2 separate regions of the Homo sapiens genome follow, and region 1 is linked to region 2. The links come from fine-mapping of genetic effects on plasma protein levels. Region 2 holds a variant in brackets. A gene starts in the other region. All regions are shown on one strand. Distances are from middle to middle.

Region 1 (2,916 bases), 130 Mb after region 2:
TGGTTTCCAAATAACCTCTCATTACCCTCATTCCCTTAATCTTCAGAATGTGGCCACTCTCAGGCTCAATGAGGCCTTTTCTGCAACTATCCAAAACTCAAGGTTATATTATACATATGGGAATCATTGCATAACCCCAACCCAACATGTGTACATGTGAAGGAAAGTGAGCATGGCAAGCCTGATATGCAGGTGCAAACGTGATATAGCCAGTAAGTGACTTGGAAGCTCTGCAGTAGGGTGGGTAACTGCAGAAGGCACAGGCCAGAAAGGCTTCATGAAGCAGGTGGAAGTGCACATGAGCCTGGAAGACCCAGTAGTATATCCATGAGGGGCAGGACTAGCCGTTGAGTGATGTGGGGGATGCATGGATGTTTAAGATGTGGTCAGTACCTTACATTGAACACAAAAGTGTCCAGTTGAGAGGATTGTGTGGGCTTTGGTGATGTACTAGATCATCAAGACATAAAAGTGGATGTGATTGATTAGCATAGGGATTTACCAGGCATTGTTAGATGCTTTATATTAGTTATCTTATAAAAAAAAATACTCCTAAAAACCTCTGAGGAACATAATATTATCCTCACTTCATAGATGAGAGAGCAAAATTTCAGAGAGGTATGGTAACCTACGAATTCACACCGCTAAGAAATCAAAACGGCAGGATTGAAATCCAGGTCTCCTTGGCTCCACAATCACCAGATTAACTAGGTTAATCTCTAGATTACTCTAAGCAATGAGAAACTGAAGAAAACTAGAAAAACATTATATGAAACACTTTTCAGAGGAAACCAGACAATATGATCAATGAAAGGTGATTGTCTTGCAGTTCTACTTCCTTTCCTGGCTCTACTTGCTGCTGCCCGGTGCCCATTCATTTGTCTTCTTACTAATAGTACATTTAGGAACACTTATGTAAAAAGAGAAATGGGATAAACTATCATGACTCTGTCATTACAAATATAAGAAAATAGAAAAAAATCTGTTAAAGTGAATTACAAATGTGTATGGATTAAGCGGCTTTTTAAGGATTAGAATAGTTACCAAATGTAAAAAGGAGGAAGAAGCTCATCCTTGAAAAACATCTAAATCTGTTCCAGGTTGGCGGGGAGAAAGTTCTCCTAATCAAAGTGCCAGAAAACTCTGAAGCCTAAACCAACAGGTGCAGAGATACTCACCAAGGATCAAGGAGAATAGCAGAGCCATGACCAAGGCAGGTGAAGGTGATGAGCTGAAATTTAAGGCTAGAAGGAGGTCCCCAAGCAGCAATATTTAGTTTTAGCTGCAAGTATGTTAAGAGGAGGGACAAAGACAGGTCCTGAGTGCAGGCAAAGCATTATCAGATGATCAGAAACCAATAGACTCGGGGGGCAGAGCTGACAGAGCTGGACTTGCTGAAATCAGCATGTTCCAGAGGAAAGGAGGTGGCCAGAACTGGCGGAAAAATGCTGAAAACAAAATAGAAACAGGCTATCATGACTTGGTTCTGCTGTAAGTCCAGCTCCGTCTGTCTCTCCTACAGCCCCTTTGCTATGTAAACAGAGGAAACACCTCCCACAAGGAAAGGCAGGTGCCAAAAATATGGCCATCTCTCAGTAGAAGACAAGGCAGTACTTAGTCGCCAAGGATGGTTTGCAAGGGAAATAAGCCAATTTTGATTCCTTTACCCCAGAGGGAAGTGCCTAGAAAATTTGGAAGCCAGAGGCCATGGGATAAATGCAGAGTTGCCCTTGGAGGCATATCCCATAAAACATAATCCAGGGTCATGGTGCCAATCTCCACATACAGGCCTGGCTTTATTGTCTTCAAACCTGCTTTCTCACTGCTAAGCAGAGGGTCCAATATACAGATTTGTTATTTTTCTATGCTTGTGCTGGTGTATGCCCATCTTTGGAAGCTGGATGGAAACAGATCCCTGAGGTGAGGGGCATCATAATCATTGAACTCAAGTTGTCTGTAGGTCTAAGACATGATGGACAGAGATTAAGCAGTAAGACCCTCTCAGGCCCCTCTGCTTTGCTATATTATTAAGTATAGCTATGCTTCATGAGCTATTCTACTCCAGATTGATCAAGCAATCAATTTTGTATGCTGACATAATCTCTGCATTCCAAGCAGGGTAATTGTTCCTCTACAGTAATAATTTTTGCTTCTTTGTAATATTCAGGTAACTCAGCAGAAAGCTTGGTTCATTGTAGGCATTCATTTTTAATCCCACATTTCTTCATTTACTTAGTATTGTATTCAATGAAAAGTTTTTAGCACTCATGAATGCCAGGCAATGTGATGGGTGGAGGCAGTACATGAAGGAACAAGGGATAGTTTTGCACTGTAAAAATATATGGTCTAGTAATTGCAATAACATGTGGAAACCACTGTTAAGAGAGAAAAGTATAACAAACTTTGGAGGCCAGGCGAGGTGGCTCATATCTGTAATCCCAGCACTTTGGGAGGCCGAACTGGGAGGATAGCTTGAGCCCAGGAGTTTGAGGCTGCAGTGAACTATGATCAGGCCACTGAACCTCAGCCTGAGTGACAGAGTGAGATCACATCTCTAAAATAAGAAAAAGAAATGAAACCTTGGAGGAAATGGTTACTATGTTTGGAGCTAATCAGAGAAGACTTCACAGCAATGATGATACTTGAGCAGGGGTTTAGGATGAGTTAAGTGGAGAATCAGAATAGGAAAAGATTTTGCTATGCATATGCAGACAAGTGAAACAGCATTACTTATTCAAGGAACCACAGGTAGTTTGGAATGACTGGATTACAGCCTGCTTAGTGATCAGGGGCCAGGGCTTCTTGATGTTGAAAGGTAAAGACACTAGATGATATGCAAGTAGCAACAAGAGCCAGATAATGGAGGGTATATCATGAATGAGTTTGTAAATGCTAACTATTCACATCCTTCCCTCT
Region 2 (2,916 bases):
CCTCACCTTAAATCTCCCTCTAAGCTCTGCCGCCCTGCTAGGAAGTGGTAGCAGAGGCCAGGTGGCTAGCTCCAGAACCCGTAAGAGTTATAAGCACTATTGAGAGTACACGAGACAGTCACTGCAGAATGCCACACAAATAAGAGGCAGCACTTCCATTGCATGTACCATGGGCTACACACTCATTTAACCCTTCCAGGAACCTAATGAGGGTGGCATATTATTACCACGCCCATTTTACAGATAAGGAAGTCAAGGCTCAGAGCGGACCAATGGTTTGCCTGAACGCACAGTGCTAAGGAGTGGTAGACCAGGATTCCAGCCCAGGCAGCCTGATCTCAGGGGCCACCTGTTTAGCCACTACAATAACTGTCACCTCGCTCATGACTGGGGCTCAGCACCTTCCTCTCACCTCCCCTTGCAGGCTCTCCCATCTGTTCCCTGACAGCAGCTTGGGGTGTGGACAAGACACCCCTGCTTTGGAGTCAGAGATGCCTGGATACTAATCCTCACCCTGTTGCTTGCTCGCTGTGTGTCCCTGAGACAGTCTTTTCCCATCTCTGAGCCTTAATTTTCTCATCTGTAAAATAGGAATTGTGCAATTTATAGGGTGGTCATGAAATGCAGATACATCAATTATTATTTTATGTGTTTTGTAACATACTATCAATAAGCCATGTATTTAAGTAAGTAAGTTGCCTTTGGATACCACTTCATAGGGTGGCTTGGAGAGTCAGAGTAAGGCGAAGAGTCTGGCCCATATTAAATGCTCAGGACCGGTAGAGATCACCATGCTGGGGACAAGGGGACAAGTCATTTGTGAGGAGTCAGGGGAATGGAGAAATGGACAAAACCAGATGTTGGGATGCCTGCATTCTGGAGGGATTTCTACCACCAGCTTGTGGTGTGACCTTGGACAAGTCACTCCCTCCTTTCTGAACTCAGTTTCTCCATTTGCAAGTTGTAGGCATCGCTCCTCACTAATGCATGAATGAAACTGTCTCTAAGGTCCTTAAGAGACTGAATTTCTGGGTAGGAGCACAGGAGCATCTTCTGGGTCTCTCTGAGGGCTGCTCCCATGAAGTCTCCCCCCTACTCTTGGGGTGCTTTTCATGGCTCCCACTCTTGAGACAAACAGGAGGGTTTGCAGGGAAC[T/C]CATACATCTCATCTGCTCCAGCAGAACCACAGTGCATGGCTCAGCTCGTGGGCTCTGCAACTGGATAGCCTTGATCTAATCTGTTTCTCACCTGTAAAATGGAGATGAAGATAATATAATAGATGTCCTTATCCTGAGTTCATAGAGGAGGAGACGGAGGTTCCAGGAGGCACAGGACTTGCTGGAGGTCATGGCTCTCACCTTGCCCTTGTCCTACTGCCTCTGGCCCACCCTTCTACAGATATGGGCTTTCCCTATGGGAATCCCAGCTTCCTCTCCCCATCCTAGAGGATTGGGTCACATTGTCTTTTGCCCTCTGCCTGACATCCTGTCTCTCCTCTCTCCCCATCTGGCAAACTCATCCAGTGGAGGTGGGCCAGCCCTGGTGTCCCCACTTACGAGCACGGTGACCCTGAGTAAGCCTCCCACCCTCTCTGGGCCCCATCCCCTCCCCGACGTCACAGGAACAACGTGGAAACGCTTGGCACACCCAGTGCCTGACCCATGGTGAGTGCTCATGAAATGTCATCTCAAATGTTGTCTCCTCAGGGGGCTGCCCTGGGGCCTCCATGTGGACCAAATTTCTCTGGGCTTGCAAAACCCAGTCCCTTCAGCACTTATCACCCTGTATCATAACCATCCACCATCAGGTCTGTATCCCACGCATCCTCAGATCCCTGTGTCTTCTTTACATCCACTGTGTTTGGCATAGGGACTGATACAAAGGAGGCACTCAGTTAAAGATTGTTCAATGAGTGAGTGAATGAATGAATGAATAAATGAATAAATGAATGAATGGTGCCTGAGTGGTGCTACATTGCACCGGGGTAAGCATTTCTCAGTGTCTCTCACTCAGCCTTCTCTGTCACCCTATGGGGTGGGTGTTCTGTCATTGCCCCCATTTCACAGATAAGCAAACAGACTCTGCTGGGGGAGGTGGCATAATCAGTGTTGGTGAAACCGGGTCCCAGAGCCTTTCCATGTCAGGTGAGGGTGGGTGGTTGGAGCCCAGAACAGTGAGTGTGAGTGACCCCTTCCAGAATTTGCCTTTGACCATTACCTCCTTGTAGAACTTCTCTCCTCCCTCGAAGACGCTGCTTCTCCCAGAACCTCTCTCATACCCCTCAGTCTCCTTCCCAAGTTCCAGCCAACCCTTGAATATTAGTGTTCCCCAGGGTTCTGCCCTCAAGCCTCATTGTAAACTGAGGCAGGGCTGGAACCTCTTTTGTCTGCCCGGCATATTTTTCCAATCTTCTCATTTCCTGTCCATGTGCTCTGGTCAGGTATCCCTCACAGGGCCCCACCCACTGGGAAGGCAAGTAGGCCAATTACAGTGTCCCATTTTCCTTGATATACAGTGATTGGTTTGGGCCTGGGCATGTGATACAAGCTGAGCCAATCAGAGCCCTCCCTGGAACTTTCGATGGAGCCAGTGGCGAAGCTTGGCTCTCTCCTGAAATGAGAGCTGGTAGGATGTAAACATTTGAGCATCTTTCCTGGGACTGGAGAATGCCTATCTGCCATGGGAGAGAAGGCCCATTCTTTTTTTTTTTTTTTTTTTGTTTGAGACAGAGTCTCACTCTGTCACCCATGCTGGAGTGTGGTGGTGCGATCTTGGCTCACTACAGCCTCCGCCTCCCGGGTTCAAGCAATTCTCCTGCCTCAGCCTCCCAAGTAGCTGGGATTATAGGCACTCACCACCACACCTGGCTAATTTTTGTATTTTTAGTAGAGTCAGGGTTTCACCATGCTGGCCAGGC

Which allele goes with the higher level. Alleles are on the strand shown, and positions count from the first base shown. The strength of an association depends on the size of the effect and on how common the allele is.
As copies of C replace T in region 2, the plasma level of the protein whose gene starts at base 1,313 in region 1 goes up (weak association).

What was found. PIP is the posterior inclusion probability: the model's chance that the variant is causal. Protein levels are from antibody-based Olink assays in UK Biobank. Linkage for the fine-mapping came from a reference panel and not from the study's own genotypes, which makes the PIPs less certain.
Region 1: CD5L starts here. The variant in region 2 is fine-mapped to the plasma level of the CD5L protein (UK Biobank, PIP 0.93).

Annotation. Positions count from the first base shown.
Region 1 is chr1:157,840,496-157,843,411 of GRCh38, forward strand. CD5L (CD5 molecule like) reads right to left here and starts at 1,313. Exons shown (of 6, transcript NM_005894.3): 1 at 1,179-1,313. The coding sequence starts at 1,206.
Region 2 is chr1:23,614,090-23,617,005 of GRCh38, forward strand. No RefSeq gene overlaps it. Among named protein-coding and RNA genes, the nearest start is that of MDS2, 12 kb to the right of the region's middle. The variant T/C (reference allele first, on the strand shown) is at 1,156.